3 separate regions of the Homo sapiens genome follow, and all the other regions are linked to region 1. The links come from fine-mapping of genetic effects on gene expression. A gene starts in region 1. Each other region holds a variant in brackets. All regions are shown on one strand. Distances are between the middles of the regions. Region 1 holds the start of CLEC4D (C-type lectin domain family 4 member D). Region 2 has its middle 8.9 kb from the start of LINC00937. Region 3 holds the start of CLEC4E (C-type lectin domain family 4 member E).

Region 1 (8,184 bases):
TTGATAGAAATAAATATTACTTTAACCAAAAATCTAGTTTCCAGGGTTGCATATCCGAGTTTGTGGGTTAGTGCTATTGTTGCTATTGGAATACTTCTTGTAGTGACTGGCGGTGCCGGAAAATATATGGATTGCCAAATCTATAATTTTACCTCCTCCCATCCCCAATTTAACATAGTAAAGTAATATTTCACTGAAGATCACAGAATATATATACACACATATCATTAAAGTAATATTGTAGCTTAGGGAAGAGTTCAGGGAAAGGGCTATATTCTGGAAATTGTAGAGATCTTTCTTAAAGGATCTCTAAGCTGTTATGTACTTGTCTTAGTGAGCTTGGGCCACTATAACAGAATACCATAGACCGGTGGTATGAAAGAGAGACATTTATTTCTCACCGTTCTAATAGCTGGAAGTCTCAGATCAGAGTGCCAGCATGGCAGAAGTGTGGGTCCCTAGGGACTGTCACTCATCATTTCCCCATTGTGGGGAGCCTCCCTTGGCTCCATGGCAATCCTGGATGGGCAGCTGCTCTGTGTCGCTCTTCTTTGCTCTCTGTAGGTTATGTGGCTTCTGTGATGAATCCCAAAGTGTCCTCCTTCAGGTCATGTAAATTTGTTCTTGGAGTCCTGTCAAATTAACCACTTTACCAGTGAGGGCTTTCTACTAGCCTTGCAGATGACTGCCTTCTGGAGAACTCATCTCTCTTTTTTTTTCCTCTCTCTCTCTTTTTTTAAATTTTTTTTTAAATTTTTTTATTATACTTTAAGTTCTAGGGTACATGTGCACAACGTGCAGGTTTGTTACATATGTATACATGTGACATGTTGGTGTGCTGCACCCATTAACTCCTCATTCTCCCAGTGCTATCTCTCCTCCCTCCCCCCACCCCACAACAGGCCCCGGTGTGTGATGTTCCCCTTCCTGTGTCCAAGTGTTCTCACTGTTCAATTCCCACCTATGAGTGAGAACATGTGGTGTTTGGTTTTCTGTCCTTGTGATAGTTTGCTGAGAATGATGGTTTCCAGCTTCATCCATGTCCCTACAAAGGACATGAACTCATCATTTTTTATGGCTGCATAATTTTCACATAGCTTCGTTTCTACAATCACAACATTCCTGAGGTAAACAGGCAAGGTGTAATCATTCTTTTTTTACAGAGGGAGAACAAGGAACTTAGGGAAATCAAAATGGGGACACTAACAGGATTTCTGTGGAAATTTAAGTAAATGAGAATTTGTAGTAAATTTTTTATCCTAAAACAAATAACTCACTTTGGCCGAAAAATGGGATGTTACCCAAGGTCCCCTACTGGGCCGGCGGAGAAAAGGACCTGCCTCCTACAGGGGCACAAACAAGGCAGACTAGGACCCAGCAGTCGGCCAAGGCCCAAGGGTCTCCAGTAAGGAAAATGTAAAATGTGAGTGTGTGAGACTGGCCTAAGATATAGGAAGAGCAGTAAAGAGAAGAAAACTGACGAGCAGAGGGGGAAAAGAATTATTAAACATGGTCAAGGAGCAAGGAGCACGACAAAGCCTCAGGATTTCTTCAAGGGATACTGCTGTGCCAGGTCTCAAGGGCAGAAGGATACAAGCACAAGACACCAGGGCCACCAAGCTGATGGGGTTACTGAGCCTCTGGACAGCACCTTCTGATAGGAAGCAAGGAAGCACACTACAAAGGCTGCAATCCTGGAGGCTGAGACAGTCAAGAGGGAGTGGAAGGGCCTCTGCTGCTCTGGGAAGGTATCTTATAGGGCAAATAAGCTCTTACTGTGTGCCTAAGAGAAAGGAAGAGGGAAGCGAGGCAGGTGTCATGGCCTTAAGAACTTTCTAGAGGTTTCTATTTATTGACATTTGACCTAGACCTCTTCATGAGCAAGGCGCAGCCTTGGGCTACAGGTAGGAAAGTCAGCATCCTACTCTCTCCTCAATTCCATCTGTTAATCCACCAACCCAAATCCCTCCCACCCCCACCTGAAGTCCAAATAAGGTAAAATGATAAAATGATGTGCTGTTCTCTCAACAGTTGGCTGAGTCTGAATTGGAGGGTAGGAAGCATTTGAAGCTCTGCCCATTTAGTTCCAGAACAAAAAATAAGCAGAGGCAGGAGGTGGAGAGCAAAGACGCTGGCAGCCCTGCGTCTGGTCTTTATAGCTGTGTCTTTGGATTTGTAGGCCACTCCTCAACTTTTCAGCTCCCGCACGATTCCTTAGGGCAAGCGACCAGTGGTTGACACCGCATATACACCTGGCTTAAAGTTATTGACTCGCTGCCAGTTGGAGACCCAGCTGTCCTCTGGACTCATCATCGCAATGATTCCATCAAAGGAGGAGCTGGTGCAGCCATATAGCATCTCTCAGTTACCCTTCATCTGTAGATATGCATCTCAATAGTCACAACCATCATATTCAAACTGGTCTATAGTACCTTGACCAGTGAACACAGCAAACAGGCCCACAGATGCCACAGGTCCTTCAGCACCGTCTCCAGGGCCATCTTCTCCAATGAGAAGAGCAACAGCAAGGAAGATGGCCACAGCCTGAGCACCCGCAGGAAGTAAACAGCTCGTTAGCCGGGTCTCTTCTTATAATTCCATCATGAGGACCCCATTCTCATGACCTCATATTAAACCTAATTACCTCCCAAACTTTTGACCTCCAAATGCCATTACGTTGGAGGGTAGTGCTTCCACCAATGAATTTTGAGGAGATACAGACATTCACTCCCTAACAGTGCTATAAATGAAGTCAGGGACCCTGATGGTGTCTTTATCACAGAATCTTACATTTTCTTTGTCTTTGCCTTAACACAACTCTTTTTGCTCACCTAGAAAGTTCTTGGGATTTAATTAACTGCTCTATCATCTCTTCCTCAACTCGAAAACAAAGGTTGCTGTGTCTTCACATGCCATGTACACACAAGGTATACTTTAAAAGTTTTTGTTCATTGTTCACATTGTCTTTTGCTCTCTTAGACTCAACTTTTTATTCAGTCCAGAGAACTTTTTAGTATAGAACTCACCCCAAGAATATAACTGCCTTTGAAAATATAATATTCACAAAAAGAATTTAAAAAGAGGGGACATTTACTAAATTTTTATTGGGCATAACAATTATTTCTTTTAGGGCGTTGCTAAATTTTTTGTCTAAATGAAAAAAAAAACAAATTGAGAAATTCCACATTTCACACTGATCTAGTGATCTCAACATACTTGTGGGTTTCTACTAACTGTTGTTTGGTATTGCTTTCTCAATTTCCTTTTTTTTTTTTTTTCGCCTCATCTCCCGGAATGTATCAAAGGAAACCCCTGTCTTTGAAAAAGACTTCTTTTGAGCTAACTTTCTTATACTGGTACCTTTCTAATCTCACTACAATATGTAACATTGGTGTTCGATCTCAAGTATTTCTGAATATATTCCCCTATCCACAGAAATATACTCTGGGGGAAAAAAAATAGAACAAATTCTTGCCGTCCTGACCATTGAACAAGAGACTAATTAGACAATGGGGCTAGAAAAACCTCAAAGTAAACGTGAGTACTTTCTCTCCTTTCCATTTCAAAGAAGCAGATGGAATTATACTAATTTAAAACATATGAATTGATGGTAGTTTTAAAGATTGTTGATGATGACGGGGAGAAGGAGGTGGAAGGAAATAAAAATGACGTTGGTGAAGAGGAAGGACATAGAGTCAAATAAGTTGGATAACAGAAACTTCTTTATAAAATGTATATTGGACCAAGAGGGGAGATAAAATATATAAAAGAGAAATAAGATGAAAAGAAAGAGAGTAATATGAGAAGATTCTTTTAAAGAAAAAAGAGAAAAGGAAGATGTAGAAAAAGCATTTAGGCTTATGCTGTATCAGAGGCTCTAACTGTCCCATTTTATGTTTGACTTAAGTGACACCAGTGGATTTGTATTGTGATAATATTAAATAATATTTTTGATAGATATATAGAACAAGTGTGGAAATGTTTAAATTAAAATTAAAGTTTTACTTTATCTCATCACCCTACCATGGCAAACTGTAATCACAGTGTGATCCTATTGAATTACCTTTTTAGGTAACAATATTTCTTAGAGATTTTTTGCATCAATATATACTGATTACATGCTTATTTAATTACTATACAGAATATCATTGTGTGAAGGGACCATAATTTAGAATTTCCACTATTGATAATATACATGTAAATATTAGATTACAGTATGTGTTTTCTATTTTGAGAAGTACTGCAATGAATATCTTTTAACATAAACAAGCTCAATTATTTCTATAGAATAGACACCTGTAATTGAAATTATTGTGGCAAATGAAATGCATTTAAAAATGGATAAATGCCACTAAATTGATCCTTCTAAAAGGCATTCCTAATTTTCCAGTCCAGGCAGCAGCATTTATTTTCTCACTAAGAGTGCTTATTTCCCCTCAGCCTTGCCAACACTGCATGTACTTAATTTACTTAAAAAATCTGATGTGTGAAAAGTTATACCACAATCTTTTCGTTTACAGTTCCCTGATTGGGCATATTTTTGTTTGATTAGTGGCTATTTATAACTTCAGCAAATTAAAATTTCAGCAAATTTCCTGCTCAGAGTTTTGCTCAGTTTTCTAGTTGATTTTGAAATACTTTATCCAGTGCGGATATTAATATTATGAGAAGACTTTCCTTTCATACGTTCCTTGACTCTAACATTGCTTGTGTTATATAGAAGTTTTAATTTTTATGTACTCAAATTATCTATTCTAATGGCTCTTGGGTTTTGTATCTTACTTATAAAATTCTTTTCATTTCAAAATTACCAAGAAATTTTACATTTTTCTTTCTTATTTATTTATTCATCAATAAGCTCTAAAATTGATTTATTTGGAGAAAATATTTATGCTCTTCTCTAGATCTGAAATATTTGGTTTGCTGTCACTTTTAGATTGCTCCTTGGTAGAATTAGCTTTCCTAGCTTGTAGCTGAGAGGAGGTTAATCTCTATTTTTCTTTTGGTCCTAGTGGAAGGAGGCATGCATCCCCAGCTGATACCTTCGGTTATTGCTGTAGTTTTCATCTTACTTCTCAGTGTCTGTTTTATTGCAAGTTGTTTGGGTAAGTTATTAGCCAAAGTAGAACTCTTCTTGAATTATTATTTCCAAACAACTTTTCTGAAGTTGCTCTAAGCCTTTTGGTATCTTGATTTTTCCTAGCATAACCTATCTATAATATCTTCAGGGTCTTGCACTGAATATTCAGAGCTACATTCTTGACCTTCTGTCTTTCAATGGTGGTACCTTGTGATAGAGATTGATTGATGGAATTTAGACCATTTTCTGTACATGTAAAAGTTGGTTACTATAGCAAATTTCCCCCCATTTTGGACTGGGATCACAAAGGGATACATCTTATGAGAAAAGAGTAAGCAGAAGAAAAATAACTTTCAGATAGACTGGCTTTGAAAAGAACAAGGTTGGAAGAATTGTTCTCTCTCTCTCTTTCCCTCTCTTTCTTTCTTTTTTCCTTTCTTTCAACCTCTTTATTGATGTACGATTGACATATGAAAACCTGTACATATTTAATGTATACATCTCAATTTGGGGGATTAGTATACACCCTTGAAACCATCACCACCATTAAAAAAATTCTTTCTGATATCAAACATAAAATAATTATAATTAAAGTAATATGATATAGGTGCAAGACAAATAGACTAGAGGAAAATAAAGGAGAGCTTGGTTACAGATCCTGCATGTATATAAGACTCTTTATATAAAACAAAAGAAGATATCTCAGACATATGGGAAAAGGACAATTTTGTTCAATTAATGTTGCAGAGCCCATTGATTATTTATATTTAAAAGATGAAATTGGTCTCCTGCATCACACTGTATACAAAAACAAATCTAGAGCAGATTATTGTCCAAAATGTGAAAAGTAAATCAATAAAGTTTTAAGAAGATAAATGGAGAATATCCTCATGACCTGGAGGTAGAGAACGATTTCTTAAACAAGCCACAAAATGCACTAGAAAATAAACATTGACAAATTATACTACATTAAAATGAGTTACTGTACAACAAAACATACCAGTAACAGTGAAAATAAAAAGCCATAGGAGAAGATACTTGTAATGCATATAATTAATAAATAATTCACATGTAGATTATATACAAATTTTTTCAAACCAGTAGGAAAAATACTTACAATAAAAAAACTGGGCAAAGTCTTAAATAGGTACTAAAACAAAGAGAAAAATGAAATGTCTAATAAACACACAAAAGTGCCAGCCTCATTAATTAATTATCAGGGAAATGCAAATGCAACTCACAGTGAGACACCTTTGCAAACATAACAGGATGGCAACAATAAAAAGTCTGGCACTACTAAATATTGATGATGCCATGGAGCAAATGGACCTCTAGTGAATTGCTTCTGGTGGAGTTTAAGCATTACAGTCACTCTGGAAAAGTTTACCGCTATCATAGTTTACAATATTCGTACGCTATTGCCTGCAGTTCCACTCCTACGTATGTGCCCTACAGAAACGCATGCTTATGTGCTCCAAATGCATGGTTGAAAATGCTCAGAAGAGCATAGTTCACAGTAGCCAAACACTGGAAACAAGGCACACATCTAATAGGAGTAGAATAGATAAATATATTTTGTTTCAGGAAGACAATAGTTCACTTTACAGCAATGACAATGGATGAATTATAGCGGGCACGTAACAAAATAGACAAATTTCAGAAACAATTCTCAACAAAAGACAGAATCAGAATACATACTGTGTGATTGCCGTTCAAAAACAGGCAAATCTGATCTATAGGGACATGTTAGTAAGTGACAAAATTGTGAAGCAAAGCACAGCGGTTACTTTAAAAGCCAAGAGTGGTTACCTGTAAAGGAGAGTGGTTACCTATAAAGGCGAGGGAGTGAGCTGCCTTTGAGATGTGAAGGCTATCTGGGGTTTTGGCAATATTCTGTTTCTTGAGCTGAGTAGTTGTTACCTGGAGTGTTCACCTTACAATAATTTGCTAAACTGTTTTCCACTTTTTTACATTTGTTTATTTTTTATTATTTATTTATATTTATTTTATTATACTTTAAGTTTTAGGGTACATGTGCACAACGTGCAGGTTAGTTACATATGCATACATGTGCCATGTTGGTGTGCTGCACCCAGTAACTCATCAGTTAACATTAGGCATATCTCCAAATGCTATCCCTCCCCCCTCCCCCCACCCCACAACAGGCCCCGGTGTGTGCTGTCCAGGAAGGGTACATTTGTTTATATATTTCAAGGTGAAAGTATTTTAGAAATGCATAAGGTTCATACAACCCAGCGCGCACCAAAAACCCCTATTCTAACACAAATTTTGATAGAAAAACATGCTTGCAAGCATGTGCACATAAAAGTTTGCAAAACTTCTCCCGTAAAGAACAAAACGGGCCGGACGCGGTGGCTCACGCCTGTAATCCCAGCACTTTGGGAGGCCGAGGCAGGCGGATCTCGAGGTCAGGAGATCAAGACCATCCTGGCTAACAAGGTGAAACCCCGTCTCTACTAAAAACAGAAAAAATTAGCCGGACGTGGTGGCGGGCGCCTGTAGTCCCAGCTACTCGGGAGGCTGAGGCAGGAGAATGATGTGAACCCGGGAGGCGGAGCTTGCAGTGAGCCGAAATCGCGCCACTGCACTCCAGCCTGGGTGACAGAGCGAGACTCCGTCTCAGAAAAAAAAAGGACAATATGATAATAAAAATATTAATTTTCAACAATTGCTTTCAACCAATTCACCTGGAGCTGAAACAAACAAGCTGCATAGAAAGAAAAGAGAATATGAGGGCCTTAATTATTAGGATAAGAGAAAATTTAGGAAGGTCAGCCCCTATTTCCCTAATTAGTGGTTATATAGAAAAAGAAACCTAACTTGCTTTTATCCTTGACAGTGACTCATCACAACTTTTCACGCTGTAAGAGAGGCACAGGAGTGCACAAGTTAGAGCACCATGCAAAGCTCAAATGCATCAAAGAGAAATCAGAACTGAAAAGTGCTGAAGGTACAGAGTGTAAGATAATTTCTTTTTTAATTTCCATTTTCGTTCAAATTCATAGTCTGACTGAAGGAATGTCAGTAGTGAACCAGGAAAGATTAAAATAGCATAAGATGAGAATCTGGCATCGGAGTAAATA
Region 2 (8,184 bases), 110 kb before region 1:
CATGCCCGGCCAGGAACCTTGTCTCTTGTGATGCACCCCAGAACAAAACATCACTGCAAAAACACACCAAGGCATGAGTTTTAGTCCTAAGTCCCATTTATCCACCATACACTATGTGCCAGGCACAACGCTAAGTGCTTCTATGGACGAGCATCCCTTAATCTCAGCAGTAACAACCCCAGGCAATGGGGCCCGTTGACAGATCCATTTGCCACTGAAGACAGTAAGGCTCAGAGAGGGTAAGTGGCTTGTGCCATGTCAGCCAGCTAAGGAGGGGCAGAACCAGGATGCAAACCCCAGCCGCCTGGCTCCAGACTCGCGTTCCCAAGATCCCACTACACTTGGTCACTCCACTGCATTCTGGTATCCTGGTCTTTGGCAGAGTCCACGTAAAAGAAGGAGGTAGAGGGAGTGAGAAGGACTTCACGCAATAAAGTTTCCTGGTGTTACACTGCCACTGTAATTGTGTCCCCGACCAGGACCTCTCCCTTCTCATCCTTTCCGTGATCGGCCCTGCAAAACCTTCCAAAGAACTGTCCTCCTTCTCCCGGGATCTCAGAGAAAATTCGCCTGAGTTCAGTGTCCAGGTGACCCAAGCTCCGAATGCGGTAACGTGCACGGGGAGATGAGGATGTCACCATGACCAAGCCTCCCAGACAGCATCCGGGAGCAACCCCAAGACTGGGCAGGGGGGGCTCTGATGCAGCCCACGGCGAGGAGGGCTGCCCGTGCTGCCTAAATGGGTTCAGAATGAAGGCCGCCCTCCCAACTTCAACCCGGGGCAGGCCACGGAGCCTCTCGCCGCCCCTACCCCTCGTTCCCCGCATCCCCGCGCACCCGGCACCCCCGGACCCCCGCGCCCGCGTCACTTACTCCTCTGCCGTCGCCACCTGTCTGGGTGCCGGTCTCCACCCTGCCCGGCCGCGGCGCGTCCTCCCCGTCCTCGCCGTCCTGGGGCTGTGCGCTTCCCCCCTCCAGCAAGAGCCGCAGCCTCTTCTCTTCGGGAGGGACGTCGTCCTCCTCCCTCCTGGGCCGGCCATCCCTGCCTCGGGGCTTGCCAGTGGCTTCGGAGCTGCGGGAAGGGCTGGCCATGGCTCCGGGGGCTCTGCCTACACTTGCGGAAGAAGAAGGAGCCTGCGCAAGCGGCCTCTCGGCGGAGCTGGGGCGTCTGAGCGCGGGCTCGGTGGGTCCGCGCGGCGCGGAGCTGGGCATCGGGGCGGCGCGGGCTCCTCCGCGGGCCGCTCGTGGTCCTCTGGCGCCCTCTGCTGGCCGCTCACGCGCACCGCCACCACGCCGGGCCCGGGCCTGCGCCGCTCTCACCCGTCCTGGCCCAGGAGGTCGCTGTCCCTTGCCCGTGGCCAGGCCCGCTCTGGCCAGGCCCTGCACCTCCTCGCCACCCCAGCCAGGTTGCACCCCGATGGTCTCCCTGCTCAAGGAGGAGGAAGAGAAGGGACGCCCCGAGAGGGTGGACATTGGCCACAGCCACCTTGTCTTTGCTCTTACCCTGTGTCTTCCATGATTTGGAGGTGGTGGGAAAACCGAGGCTGCTCAAAACTCGTGGAGAATTCCGCCTGCAGGATGACATGAATGCACCTTCGCATTGCCTACCAACAGATCTTTTCTGAGCATCACTGTGGACCAGGCGTGGTGATGGGGGAGGGGATATTGTGGTGAACATGACAGGCATTGCCTTCACCCAGTGGGGCTCAGCACTGGGTGAGAAGGCATTGAGAATGGACATTGTCAATTGGGCCAAAGGAGGCCAAGGAGAAGTGCTGGGTGCATGGGAACTAAAAAAGACAGGAGGCTCAGCAGGTCTTGGAGCTGGGAGAGGGACAGCAGCAGCGGCTGTTCCAAAGGAAGCAACAGCTGAGAGAGGTCTCAGAGAGTTGTTCTCAGCCCAGTGGAGGGTGTTCAGGCAGAGGGAACAGCGTGTGCAAAAGCCCAGAGGCTGGGAAAGAAGCAGAAAGAGGACGGTGGGGCTGGAGCGTGGTGGGCAAGGTGAGAGAGGTGTGGTGGGTGGACAGATGGCCTTGGACCCAGCCGTGCAGGGGCAGAGGAGATAGGGGATCCTTGCAGGCCCCCAGCCGGGGCTGAGGCACAGAGACAATGCAGGTGGGCAAAGGGAGGAGACGTGGAGAAATATTTTGGAGGCATGCCCTGATGAAGGAGCCCAGGATGCACCCTTAGTGTCAGTGTGGAGCTCCTTCCTTGGCTGTGTGATGAGCTGAACTCGGGGGTATTTTCTGGACATGGAGGTGCTACACCCAGAGTCCAGGACAGGCTAAGTGAGCACCAGCAGCTCCTGGCCCACCTCAAAAGCAGGAGAGACAGGGGAGACTGGGGAGGCCGGGGTGGAAGGGGAAGCCAGGAAGGCAGGAGAGGCCACAGAAGCAGAGGAGGCCAGGGAGGCAGAGGAGGCAGGAGAGGCTGGGGAGGCTGTGTCCTTCCCCAGATTCTGCCCAGGATCCTAGGCCCCTGAGCTTCTCCACCCCAAGAGCTGGAACCATGTTGCACAATGGTCTCCCCAACTAAGCTCCTGATGGCAGCCCCTACCCTGCTGTGCTCTCTATTTCAACCCTAACAGCTCTCACAGTGGGCAGCACACAGTAGGTGCTCAGGAAACACTGGTGGCAGAGCACATGGGTCTGCTCAGCACCTTCCTCCCTCCTCCAGCTCTCCCTATCATGAAATAATTCTGATAACGACACATGGACTTTGAGATGCTCTTCTATTACTTTCCATATGCTAATCCATCTATACCCCACAGCAGCCCTGAGGGTGGGTGCTATTAGGATGCCCATTTTATAGAGGAGGAAACTGAGGTATAAAGAGGGTAAGTGACATAGGCACACTACAGAGGCTGGGACCAAGTGATCAGAGCACTCAGTCCCCAAAGGCAAGGTGGATGCAGTTATCATTAAAAGACAGCAGAGTCAAAGCTGCAACCAGAATAGCCTGACTCGCAGAGACCTATGGTGCCAGCTGATCGTGGCATTCCTAGAAGTGAAATAGATAAGAAGCCTGCCACATTTTTACTGGATCTGTGTTTGCAGAAGAGTTCTAGGTCAGGTGAGCAGAAGTCTAATCTGAATCCTAAAAACAGAGTCACAGTCCCCAGTCAATTCCCAGATATAAGCCAGTTCACAGACCCAGAGTCCCTTGTCTGAATGGGAAGCCAGGTCCCCTCCAGAAAGGACTCTGCTCCACTGCCACAAATTAATACTGTCAATCTTTCTCCCAGCCTGCCCCCAAGGGAATACACAGCCTTTTACCAGGATGACTGAATAGGAGAAAAGGAACTAATGAGACCAGTGCAGGATCACTGGACACAGGCTCTGAACTGGCACTAGGGCGAGACTAGGATCTACCAGACAGAATAGGCATTTTGG[T/C]GGTCAGGTGAATGTTGGTGCAAGTTCATGTCATGGTAGATCCATTGGGTCCCCAAATCCATCCTCTGGTTATATACAAAATGGCCATGTTGAGATTTAAATTCATGGTATCCAACTTAGAGGCTGTGCTCTTACTCATGAAACATTCTGACACTAGTAACCAATTTAAAAATGCAAACACCTCCTGGGGCTAGCGAGAGTCCTCCAAACAGTCATGTAAATTGGTTCTGTCAAGGATTTCCTCCTACCCACCACCCCTCCCCACCCCCATCCGCTGAGAGCCAGTTGCAAGGAGAGACTAGGGAAGGGCATTGGGTAACTTTGTTGCTAAAAGCTCTTCTGGATAAAGAAGAGCTTTATCCAGGAAAAAGAAGCAAAATAGAGTTCAGCAGAAGTTGAGAAAAGAAGCAAATAGAGTTCAGGAGAAGGGGTAAGAAAGTAAGTTTATGTTTGACCAGGCACGGTGGCTCACGCCTGTAATCATAGCACTTTGGGAAGCCAAGGCGGGCAGATCACGAGGTCAAGAGATCGCACCATCCTGGCCAACATGGTGAAGCCCCGTCTGTACTAAAAATTCAAAAATTAGCTGGCCATGATGGCACACGCCTGTAGTCCTAGCTTCTCGGGAGCCTGAGTCAGGAGAATCACTTGAACGCAGGAGGCAGAGGTTGCAGTGGGCCGAGATCATGCCACTGCATTCCAACCCGGTGACAGAACAAGACTCCATCTCATAAAACAAAACAAAACAAACAAAAAAAAGTAAGCTTATTTTTAAGCCTGAACAAGTGTAGTGGTTTAGGGGTTCTGCAAACATGGCCCCAATCAGGCTACAAGATGTTGTGGCAGCAATATTTACAGCCAGTCACTCCTGGCCAGCTGAGCCACTTTTCAAAACATGCTTGCACAGCTGTGCAGAGCGGCTGGCTCCACTGGCAGCCGGCAGAGCCATAACTCACACTGTCACCAATGCCCTCAAACCCCTTCGGTAAGCACTTTGTTTTTTTGAGACGGAGTCTTGCTCTGTCATCCAGGCTGGAGTGCAGTGGCACAATCTCGGCTCACTGCAAGCCCCGCCTCCTGGGTTCACGCCATTCTCCTTCCTCAGCCTCCCAAGTAGCTGGGACTACGGGCGCCCGCCACCATGCCCGGCTAATTTTTTTTGTATTTTTAGTAGAGACGGGGTTTCACCGTGTTAGCCAGGATGGTCTCAATCTCCTGACCTTGTGATCCGCCTGCCTCGGCCTCCCAAAGTGCTGGGATTAGAGGCGTGAGTCACCGCGCCCGGCCTGGTAAGCACTTTTAATCAATGCAACAGGAATAAACATTTGCTGCAGAGCGGCAATGTGCAGGGAGGAACATGCTTCCACTCAGGCTCAGAAAGCAAAACCTCCTGGCTGTTTGCATCTATGCAAGAGCTCGCAGGAAAAGCCCTCTGTGTGGCTGCCAGCCTCACACACTCCCCCCAAGGGGTGAGTTTCTCTTTTCATGTTAATCTATGCTCTGACGTGCCATCTGTCAACCACCACACCATTCTCAGTTGCCATTTCAAAGCATCTTTGCCCTGTGAATGGTCACCAGCCCTGCCTTGCAAGCCCCCAGTTCACATTGAACTTAAATGAGAGAGAAAGCAGGTTTCGGGGTGGATTTCAGTTCAGCATCTTCGAGTCTCTGTGTGGACATGAAATCTGTCTCTCCAGCTGTGGGCTGCATCTTTGTTTGTCATCTGGTTTGGTTCTTGGGGACTTGGAAACTCGTGGGCACCTTTGCAATTTGTCAAGAAGCTGCATGGCCCTTCCAACAAAAGCAAGGAGTAGGAACAGAAGCCCAAGGCTTCAGATCAAGGTGCAATTTAAAGCAGCCTCAGTGTAAAAGCAAACAAGATTCAGAGGGATGCCTAAGGCAGAGTCTAGTCCCCAGGGCAGCAATAAGGCAAAGAGAAAGAGAGAGAGAGAGACAGAGACAGAAAGACAGAGAGAGATGGGAGGAGACATGAGGCACCCAGGCGTCTGCATCAAAATCCCTACAAGAGGGGCCTCCTCAAAATGCAGGAGGCTGAGGTGGGTGCACACAGAAGTTCAAGACTAGCCTGGGCAACATAGCAAGACCGTGTCTTTACAAAAAATACAAAAATTAGCCGGGTGTGGTGGTGTATGTCTGTGGTCCCAGTTACCCAGGAGGCTGAGGTGGGAGGATGGCTTGAGCCCAGGAGGTAGAGCTGCAGCGAGCTGAGATAGCACCACTGCACTCCAGCCTGGGCAACAGAGTGAGACTTCATCTCAAAAAAAAGTTAAAAAAAATTTTAAAAAGGATCACCCTGGCTACTTGAATAGGTAATAAGAAGGTAAGAGCAGAAGCAAGGAGACCAGCAGGGAGATTCTGCAGGTGGGAGTCCACAGTGGCTCAGACCAGGCTGGCGCTGAAGACTGCCTGAATTCTATATATATATTGATGATGAAGCAACTCACGGACTCTTGAAGAGTGGGCTCTAGGAGACTGGATTTTTAACAAGCTCTCAGAGGATTCTAATGCAGGCTGAAGTTGAAGAACTGGTTTAGGTGAAGCTTCTGTTTCATCCTTGGGGAAGTACCTACTGACTTTTCTCTAAGTCACCTAAAAAGAGGTGCTAGACAAGATGTGCTCCAATGTCTGAACATGTGTGCACAGCTCTAGAGCCAACCTCAGGACACTGAGTCAAAGGTTAGGAGTACAATAGTGAACAACCACTGTCCTCTTTTCAATGAGCTTTGCATTTAGTGAGAGAAATAAAAAGCAAAAAAAAAATCATTTTCAACACAGAATGGTAAAAGTTATGGTGACAGTATGTCTGGGGCAATGGGAGCACATAGAAGAGGCACCCGATTGGCTAGGTGCAGCTGTTCATGCCTGTAATCCCAGCACTTTGGGAGGCCAAGGTGGGTGGATGACTTGAGGCCAGGAGTTCAAAAACAGCCTGGCCAACATGGTGAAATCCTGTCTTTACTAAAAATACAAAAAAATTAGCCAGATGTGGTGGCGGGCACCTGTATTTCCAGATACTCAGAAGGCTGAGGTGAGAGAATTGCTTGAACCTGGGAGGCGGAGATTGCAGTGAGCCAAGATCGTGCCCCTGCACTCCAGCCTGCACGGTCAGAGCGAGACTCCATCAAAAAAATAAATAAATAAATAAATAAAAGCCCGGAGGTGGGTGGGCATGCAATCTCTATCAGGTGGTGAGAAATCCTTCTCCACCACAGGACTCCTCAGTTGAAGACTAGAAAATGGTAGGAATTAGCCAGGTCGATAGGAGAGGTGTGGAAGATCATTCCCAGCAGGGGGAAGAGCATGTGCAAAAATCGAGACGTGAGAGGGTGAGGAGCTGAGAGATGTTCATATAATTATAAAAAGTGACTAATATAGAGGTAAGTTGGAGCCAAATCTTAAAGGCTCTTTGTCGTGTTTATCCTGTACACAAAGGGAGACAGTAGATGTTTTTAGGCAGGGGAGTAATGATCCACTTTGTGCTATAAAAAGAGCAGTCTGGCTGGAGGAGAGTGGGAGGTGAGTAGACCAGGTAGTAGGCTGCAATAAGCCAAGTGAGACAAGTTGGTTGGCTGGACCAAGGCTGTGGCAGTGAGGATGGAGAAGAGACAGTAGACTAACTTGACGAGAAAGAGGGAGGAACGAAGGAGGAGGCCCAGGTGTTTTGGAAGCTGGGTGGATGGTGGTGTGAATCTGACGTGCTGAGCCCAGGCAGAAGAGGAAATCAGGAGAGGCAAGGTAAGATGAGGTCAATGCAAGAAAGACAGTCAAATAGAGATAACAACTGGGCCATTGGATTCATCAGCCTGGAGTTATACAGAGAGCTCTGGAATGGAAATAAAGAGGAAAGGACTTTGGGAATAGGTGAATCCTCCCAGAATAATGTATAGAGAAAGGAGAATAGAACACAGGGGACAGAAAAAGGGAAGAGATTTGTTATTAAAACCAACCATCCATCAGACATCTTCCAATACAACACTTGTTAGAGGTTTCCTCAGTGTGAGTTATTCAGGACCAGAGCTAAAGACCATATTCCCAATAACATCACTGCTGGGAAGGTCTTCATGAAAACATTTAATGCTGCTTTTAAAACAACAACAACAACAAAAAGGCTTTAGCTACCGCACAGACCCTGGAGCAATTTTTCGGCAAGAGTCTATCAAACACGAATCTGATCTGACTCAAGGAGGTGTCATATCAAGTGTAAAAATCCAATTCCAATGTCCATAACAGCCTTTCTTCCAGGTACAAGACCCTAATCCAGTTGAAGTGATTTTCTATTGATTAATAGGCTGGGAATACACAGGTTGTTGGTTTTTGAGATTTCCCTCCCTGTGCCTTCATGCTAGCTGTGAAAGAGTCAAAAGGCTCCTAACTGTCAAAATAAAATTGACACTTGGTCACAGAGGAAACAGATTATAGGTCAATCACATTGATGACTTTTTAACTATGAGAAGCCATTAATGTTACTGAATAAGCAAATCTGTTTGCATAACCAGATTTTTATAGGCTACTGGGAATAAAGGTTTTCCTAAGTAGGTGATTTGTACAACGATAGCCTTTGGGTCTCTGATGGAACAGCTCTGATGAGGAAATGTTCCTTTAATTATGTGGAAGGCCAATTACCACGTTATAGCCACATTGTTTTGCAGATTACATATAATTTCACCATTTCCATAGCTTCAGCACTATAATTCTGGAGAAAATTCAGGCACCAAGGGGACATTGAGGCACACTATGCTGGAGACAAAGATGTTTTAGCGAATTCAATTTA
Region 3 (8,184 bases), 27 kb after region 1:
GTTATGCTATTGATATAGAACCTTATTATCTGTTCTTAGACTACTAATGTCAGAGAAATTTATGCATTTTATTTGGGTGACCCCCAAAGAGCCATCTCTTATGTTACCTAAACAATGTATCCTCAATCAAATCTCCATACTGTAGTATATAGATGGGTTAGATGTGGGCGGCAAGCCACCCAGGCGCTGAGGCAAGAGACAGAGGACACGAGCTGTTCCAGTATAATAAAATATAAAACAAGAATAGTTATACCAGATATAGATCTTAGATATGATTATATATGAATATCATTAATCATTAGTTTGTAGCAATTACTTTTTATTCCAATATTATAATAATCCTCGCTCTATAATCATAGCCAAGGAAAAACCAGGCCGTACAGAGCTACGAGCTGAGGGGACATAGTGAGGTGTGACCAGAAGACAAGAGTGCGAGCCTTCCGTTATGCCCGGACAGGGCCACCAGAGGGCTCCTTGGTCTAGCGGTGACGCCAGCGTCTGGGAAGACGCCCGTGGCCAGGCAGACAGACTGTGGTCTAGCGGTAGCGTTAAGTGTCAAGGGAAAACACCCGCTACTTAGCAGACAGGAAAAGGGAGTCTTCCTTTCCCTGGGGGAGTTTAGAGAAGACTCTGCTCCTCCACCTCTTGTGGAGGGCCTGACATTAGTCAGGCTTGCCCGCAGTTATCCGGAGGCCTAACCGTCTCCCTGTGATGCTGTGCTTCAGTGGTCACACTCCTAGTCTGCCTTCATGTTCCATCCTGTACACCTGGCTCTGCCTTCTAGATAGCAGTAGTAAATTAGCGAAAGTACTAATAGTCCCTGATATGCAGAAATAATAGCGTAAGCTGTCTTTCTCTCTGTCTCCTCTCCCTCTCTGCCTCGGCTGCCAGGCAGGGAAGGTCCCCCTGTCCAGTGGACACGTGACCCACATGACCTTACCTATCATTGGAGATGACTCACACTCTCTACCCTGCCCCTTTCACCTTGTATCCAATAAATAACAGCGCAGCCAGACATTCGGAGCCACTACCGGTCTCCGCGCATTGGTGGTAGTGGTCCCTTGGGCCCAGCTGCCTTTTCTTTTATCTCTTTGTCTTGTGTCTTTATTTCTACATGCTCTCGTCTCTGGACACAGGGAGAGACCCACCAACCCTGTGGGGCTGGTCCCTACAGTTAGATTTCTTAGAATTACAGAACTTTTGCCTTTGAGGTCTATTATAAATAATTCTTCTAACTTCTCTCAATTTAATGGTGAGAAAATTATAGCTCAGAGAAGGAAGTCACTTTTTTAGTGTCATGTAGCATTTTGCTAGGACTTGCAACAGGATGACATAGAAGAGCATAGAGAGTATATTTGTGAGATATTTATAAATTCTCTACTCCATACGTTTTTTCTCCATCTCATTTTGGAAGTAGGTGAATGAAAAAAAAGGTACACTCCTGGGAATAATACCTTCCACTTCCAGATTTACTGTTCAGACATACCCCTCAAATTTATTCTAAAAGTTTACTATAATGTCCCCAAGACTTTCTGCCCCAATGCTAATTGCATCACCAAATTTCTAGGATTTTACATTTTGCTTTTGAAAAATAAGACCTAATCCAGCTATATCTCACCTGTCCCAAAGTCAATCTAGAAGCCAGAAAATGTTGCTTTGTAAATTTTGATGTTCACCTTTGGGACTATTATACCTGATCCATAATTGTAGCAGGAGAGCTCTGTGAAATTCTCAGGTAGCTGAAACTTTTTCTCATCACAGGTTTGAAAGATGCGAAATGTCACTGTAAAAGAAAGGGCATAATGTTTGTTAGTCTTATTTCGGTTAAAAATGTCAGTTCCCTCAGTTTTGTATTTATAACAAAAGTGCCAATAATTATCATGTTTTTTCTTACAATCTGCTTTTTCTTACGACCCAGAGAAAATAGATATGTTTGCACTACCTCTTATGCCAAGTCCAACTCTCTCTACCCTTCCTTCCAAAAGTAATTAGTCATATCTCTGGTGCCGACCAGTAGTTCAAGCTCTAAGGCAGACTCTCCTAGAGAAGGTTACACTAATGATAGAGGCTGAAAGAGGAGGATTCAGGACTGCCAAGGAAGTGAAAAATGTCTATCATGAAAAGTAAGTCACAGGTGATTAAAATTCAGAAACAGTTCCCTGCTTGTTGAGGTTTCTGGTTTGAGAAATAACCTAGAGATTAATAGGGAAAAAAAAAAGGGTGAAATAGAAAGACCCTTTGAGGGCAAAGAGAGTCTACAGGCAGCATGGAAGAGTTTTCTCCTAATATGCACCAGGAAGAATTAAATTGAATTTGACCTTCAGAACCCACCAACACATCTGGTGATGAAACAGGCACTGAGAAATAGGATGGGGATCCCAGCAACAGTCCATAAGAACATTTGGGAAGAGAAGCATCCTCTCTCTGTAGAAAGAAAGACACAAACATGATCAATCTTCCCTAAGCAAGGTACAAAAGAGATAGAAGAGATTCTTATTCATCCTTACTTATTTCCTTCTACTTCCATTGTTTGTACTGAGTAATTCCCAAATTTCAGCATGCTTCAGAATCACTTGGAGGGTTTATGGAAACACAGATTGCTGACCCTTACCCCCAGAGTTAGCAACTCAGTAGAGTTTGTATGGAACCAACAAGTTCCCAGGGGCTACTGCTGCTGCTGGTCTGAGGACCACACGTTTAGCACCCCTGGAGTAAGACTCTGACTCATGAACTCAGATATACAATTTTTCCTTTCTAAGTCTCTCAGTTAAATTTTTTTCAGTATTTTCTAAGGCCCCCCTTCTTTCTTTTTCTTTCTTTTCCCTTTTCTCGTCTTTGCTTTTCTTGTCCTTCTCCTGATCTTTTTTTTTTTTCTGTGTCTCACTTTTCAAGCGCTTTGTAAATTAGGTAAAATGTTAACAGTCATCTAATAGTTCCTCTCTTCCTCCCATTAAACATTTTACAGACAAAGAGAGTTCCAGAGAAGTGAAGTGACTTGCCAAAAGGGACACAATGTATTGCAGAAAGGGTGGAAACTGATAGCTCTCCCTTAGCTAGAGGCCAGCAGGCTTTCTGGTATAAGAAATAGTCTTTAAATCTCTCTCTCTCTCTTCCTCTGTCCCCCCACTTTTTTTTTTAACTTCAGTGAATACTTTTCTATTGTCCTGTCTTTCACCATATTTATCACTTGTTCCAAAAAGAGATCTATGGAAGGAAAGGAAGAGTTGCAGATTTTACCTGTGCATTGTGTTTCAGATGATTTAGATGAATTCATTTTTTCTCTCTCTTTGGTTTTTTG[T/C]TTCTCTCTCTCTCTTTTTCTCTCCCTCCCTCTCTTTCTTTCTCCTCAGGAGTGTTTTGTTGGTAAGATTCAGGGAGAATGAATCTTGAAAGATAAACACTTTGTCTTTTAGGAAGTTCAGCTCCGATAGATGTAGAATATTAACTTGTTCTGTGGCTACGCATTAAGTCAGGATTTCCTTTCTTGCATAAGGAGGACAAGGAAGTTTATTGGACAGCATGTCAGTTCTCTTCACTCCATGTAACAACAAAATGAGGAAATTATGAAATGGTAAGCATCAACACAAATAGGCTAGCCATGGGGAAACAGGAGAGTTTTTTTTTTAAATGTTGTTTCGTTTCGTTGGACCAAATGTCTCTAGTTTCTTCAAGGCATAACTCATCCCCCAGTTTTTCCTTGACAATATGGAGCTCACCTCTGCACTCTGAATTTCACTTTGGATCTGTACCATCCACACATTTGGTAACTGAAAAGAAGACTTAGACAACATAGCACAAAGCTGGGCATATAGTGTATGTATTTAGGACATGGCAACCTGAATTTTTTCATCTTTTTTTTTTTTTTTTTTTTTGAGACAGAGTCTCGCTCTGTCGTCCAGGCTGGAGTGCAGTGGCATGATCTCCGCTCACTGCAAGCTCCGCCTCCCGGGTTCAAGCCATTCTCCTGCCTCAGCCTCCCGAGTAGCTGGGACTACAGGCGCTCGCCACCACGCCTGGCTAATTTTTTGTATTTTTAGCAGAGACGGGGTTTCACTGTGGTCGTCAGGATGGTTTCAATTTCCTGACCTCGTGATCCGCCCGCCTCAGCCTCCCAAAGTCCTGAGATTACAGGCGTGAGCCACCGCGCCCGTCCTCTTTTTCATCTTTTATGGTTTTTCTTTCTTCTTCATTTGCAGCTCTTGAATATTCTAATGTTGTGGATTTATGTCCCTCTTATCTTATGCTGACTACTAGGCTGCTACTACTAGGCTGACTACTAGAGTCCCCCTCAGCAGGACAGCCTCATGTGATTAGACCACTTTGAAACTCAGCTTAGTTTTTCACAACATAACGCAGCTTCTGAAGTCTCAGAGACCCAGCAGGCAGTTTAATTCTCCTGTTCTCAATTATTTGGGGATTTTAGTTCTATGTTACAGCCTACAGTAGGAGAAATGTATTTGAAGGTCAGAAAAAGCAATTTCAATTAGATATTAGAATTTAATGGTTCTCTGGGCCGGGAGCAGTGGCTCATGCCTGTAATTCCAACACTTTGGGAGGCCAAGGTGGGTGGATCATTTGAGGTCAGGAGTTTGAGACCAGCCTGGCCAACATGGTGAAACCCCACCTCTACTAAAAATACAAAAATTAGCCAAGTGTGGTGGCACGCATCTGTAATTCCAGATACTTGAGAGGCTGAGACAGGAGAATAGCTTGATCCTGGGAGGCAGAGGTTGCAGTGAGCCAAAATTGCACCACTGCACTCCAGCCTGGGCGATAGAGTGAGACTCTGTCTCAAAAAAAAAAAAAAAAAAGAATTAATGCTTCTCTGGAAGAATAGTTAGATATGTGCCTTCTCCTTACTTAAAGATACTTAAGAATAAGATCACACTGGTCTCAGTTTATTTAAGTTCACGAGTCAGGAGGCATAAGTATGATGTACATGACTTGGTAAATCCCCACATCCAGTGACTCACGAATTTTCCATGTGTGAGAAAATATTCTTGTTCTCAAAGGGACTTTTTATTATTTCAAGGTACTGGTCAATTTTCTCTGCATTCTCTGTTTTATAGTAATACAATTTTAAAAATATCTTTAAATTATATATGTGTATATTATAGAATATACCCATATTTAATATGTGTATTCTCAGCAAATAGCTTTTGATCAGTAAAAAAAGAGAAACTATCTAGTGGATGAGCTATATGAATTATAAAATGATGAACATAATTACCACAGTCCATCTTTTATTAATTACAATCAACCAGCAACCATCAATATTACTAAACAATTGTATGTTAATTTTTATCAATATACAATTAAACAGAAATCAATAAATTAATATTTTTTCCAGCCAAAATGTTTTTATATCTTTTGTTTCATTGATTTTCCCCAAATTATACGAGTAATATGTTTTATGATTAATACTATGAAAAGCATGTGACAAGTAAAAGCCTTCTTAACTATCCTTAGTGCATTCTTCTAAAGTTGACCATGCTTAATGATTTCTTTTTTGGGGGGGGGGATTAATTTTTATTTATTTTTATTTATCTTTTATTACACTTTAAGCTTTAGGGTACGTGTGCACAACGTGCAGGTTTGTTACATATGCATACATGTGCCATGCTGGTGTGCTGCACCCATTAACTCGTCATTTAGCATTAGGTATATCTCCTAATGCTATCCCTCCCCCCTCCCCCCACCCCACAACAGTCCCCAGAGTGTGATGTTCCCCTTCCTGGGTCCAAGTGTTCTCATTGTTCAATTCCCACCTATGAGTGAGAACATGCGGTGTTTGGTTTTTTGTTCTTGCGATAGTTTGCTGAGAATGATGGTTTCCAGCTTCATCCATGTGCCTACAAAGGACATGAACTCATCATTTTTTATGGCTGCATAGTATTCCATGGTGTATATGTGCCACATTTTCTTAATCCAGTCTATCATTGATGGACATTTGGGTTGGTTCCAAGTCTTTGCTATTGTGAATAGTGCCACAATAAACATACGTGTGCATGTGTCTTTATAGCAGCATGATTTATAATCCTTTGGGTATATACCCAGTAATGGGGTGGCTGGGTCAAATTGTATTTCTAGTTCTAGATCCCTGAGGAATCTCCACACTGACTTCCACAATGGTTGAACTAGTTTACGTCCCACCAACAGTGTAAAAGCATTCCTATTTCTCCACATCCTCTCCAGCACCTGTTGTTCAGCAATAGATTCTTTGATTTCCCTTTTTAAATATCATCCAGGAACTTATCGTCTAAGTCCCTTTTCTAAACTATATTGCCTGTCAATATTTCAGGCAACTGAAAAAGAATCAGTAAAAGCTGTAAACATCTATGCCATACGAGTATTGTTAGTATCTACTTTTCTTTGATGCCAAGAGAAACATCACTCAATTTTAGCCTTGGGGCAGATTTATTTTTTGTCTTTTCATCTAACATGCAATCACTAACTGATCCCAGGGCTGCTGCTTCCCAGGTTGACGGCCAGCCCTTTACCCTTGAACTGCCATCTATCTGTAAGCCACACTGCTGCCTTGACAGCTGACCAGAGAGAGGGGCCTATTCAGCTATAGGTTTAGCCAACTCCTCAGGGGAACCAAATTTATGGTGACCTGTCAGCCACCTGACTGTGCATGCATTGGGTAACCCCATTTCACATTCTTGAGTATCTCCTTTCTATTCAAGGAGGGAATTCTGTGCATTTCATTTCTTGTTGGAATGATGATATGATATAAATAGGATGTTATGAGTTTTCAAATAATTTTATGTCCTTCAGTACAAAAAGCAGTTTCAACTAAAACCCAGTAACAAGCTAGCAATTCCTTTTAAATGGTGCTACTTCAAGCTGCAGCCAGGTAGCTTTTTATTACAAAAATCCCACAGGCAGCCACTAGGTGGCAGTAACAGGCTTTTGCCAGCGGCTCCAGTCAGCATGGCTTGACTGTGTGCTGCAGAAACTTCTTAAATCGTCTGTGTTTGGGACTCGTGGGGCCCCACAGGGCTTTACAAGGGCTTTTTAATTTCCAAAAACATAAAACAAAAAAAAATACAAATGTATTATCTTGCTCAAAACTTCAGTCAAATTTAGCTTTTTTCTTGATAACTTTATTAACAGGGGTATGCCATTTCTCCACCACATTAACAAGCCAACATCTTTGCACCTCTTGCTTTCATTTTGGAGCTGGCAGAGACAATTACTTATTTTTGGTTGTCTGAGGGATGCCTCTCATCTCCCCTGTCCAGGTGATGCCTAAGAATTTTACCATTTCCCCTGGACCCTGTTCTTTAGTTGGGTTAATCAGCCTCATATGATTAACAAGCATTATACAGTAATTCAATCTTTGCTAGATCTTCAAATTGAGTTAATATGACATTAATGCAGTTAATAATATTACTTTCTAATTGATCACATCTAAGTATCTTCTTGCCAAGTGCCGTGATAAAAAGGAGAATTTAAATAACCTTATGGGAACATAGCAAATGTATACTGGAATCCATCCCACATGAATGTGTATTAGCTTTGATTTTCTCCCTAAATAGAGATAGAAAATAAGGTTTTAGGCAAATAGATAACAGAATATTACTGTCTTTTAGCTTTTAGCAAAGCTTGAATTGTGATGCCATCTTGGGTACAGCTGATGCTGTTGGAAGCATGATTTTATTCAGTCCTCTCTAACATACAATTCATCTCCAGGATCCACCAAGTTTTCTTCTAGGCCATACTGGATTATTAAACAGGGAATCTGTGGGCATTAACATGACTGTGTCTAACTTATTCTTAATTAAAGCTGAAATTCTTCCTCCAGCCTATTCTTAATTAAAACTGAACCCCCCATCCTATATTGTTTTAAAATAATCATTTGAATGTGCTTAAGCAATTCTAAGGGTTCCCATCTAGCAGGTCCAATTAAAAACAGGATGAAGAGAAGATTGGCAGTCTTTTCCAATGGTTTGGGTAAGGAAAGAGTCCGCCATTCAGACATCATGCTCATTTTTAAAATATATTCTAGTTGGACTGAGACAAAATCATACATTAATTTCATTCATAAATACCGTACTAATATGAGGGACTTGAGAATCCACAGGTTTTGGTATTCAAAGCAGGGTCCTCAAACCAATCCCCCACTGATACCAAGGGATGATTGTATCTACTTCTGGCCATACTATCACCTGCAAGTTTTCT

The links.
Region 2: its variant is fine-mapped to the expression of CLEC4D in whole blood (INTERVAL, PIP 0.98).
Region 3: its variant is fine-mapped to the expression of CLEC4D in monocytes (TOPMed, PIP above 0.99). The same link has a PIP of 0.9 or more in blood mononuclear cells and whole blood.

The regions. Positions count from the first base shown.
Region 1 is chr12:8,510,224-8,518,407 of GRCh38, forward strand. CLEC4D (C-type lectin domain family 4 member D) reads left to right here and starts at 3,280. Exons shown (of 6, transcript NM_080387.5): 1 at 3,280-3,537; 2 at 5,013-5,105; 3 at 7,941-8,051. The coding sequence starts at 3,510. It also overlaps the pseudogene SUPT4H1P2.
Region 2 is chr12:8,395,550-8,403,733 of GRCh38, forward strand. No RefSeq gene overlaps it. Among named protein-coding and RNA genes, the nearest start is that of LINC00937, 8.9 kb to the left of the region's middle. RefSeq lists enhancers at 962-1,221, 1,342-1,391, 1,684-2,185, 2,186-2,685. The variant T/C (reference allele first, on the strand shown) is at 3,393.
Region 3 is chr12:8,537,524-8,545,707 of GRCh38, forward strand. It overlaps CLEC4E (C-type lectin domain family 4 member E), which reads right to left and starts at 3,382. Exons shown (of 6, transcript NM_014358.4): 1 at 3,238-3,382; 2 at 2,332-2,424; 3 at 1,694-1,783. The coding sequence starts at 3,274. The variant T/C (reference allele first, on the strand shown) is at 3,299.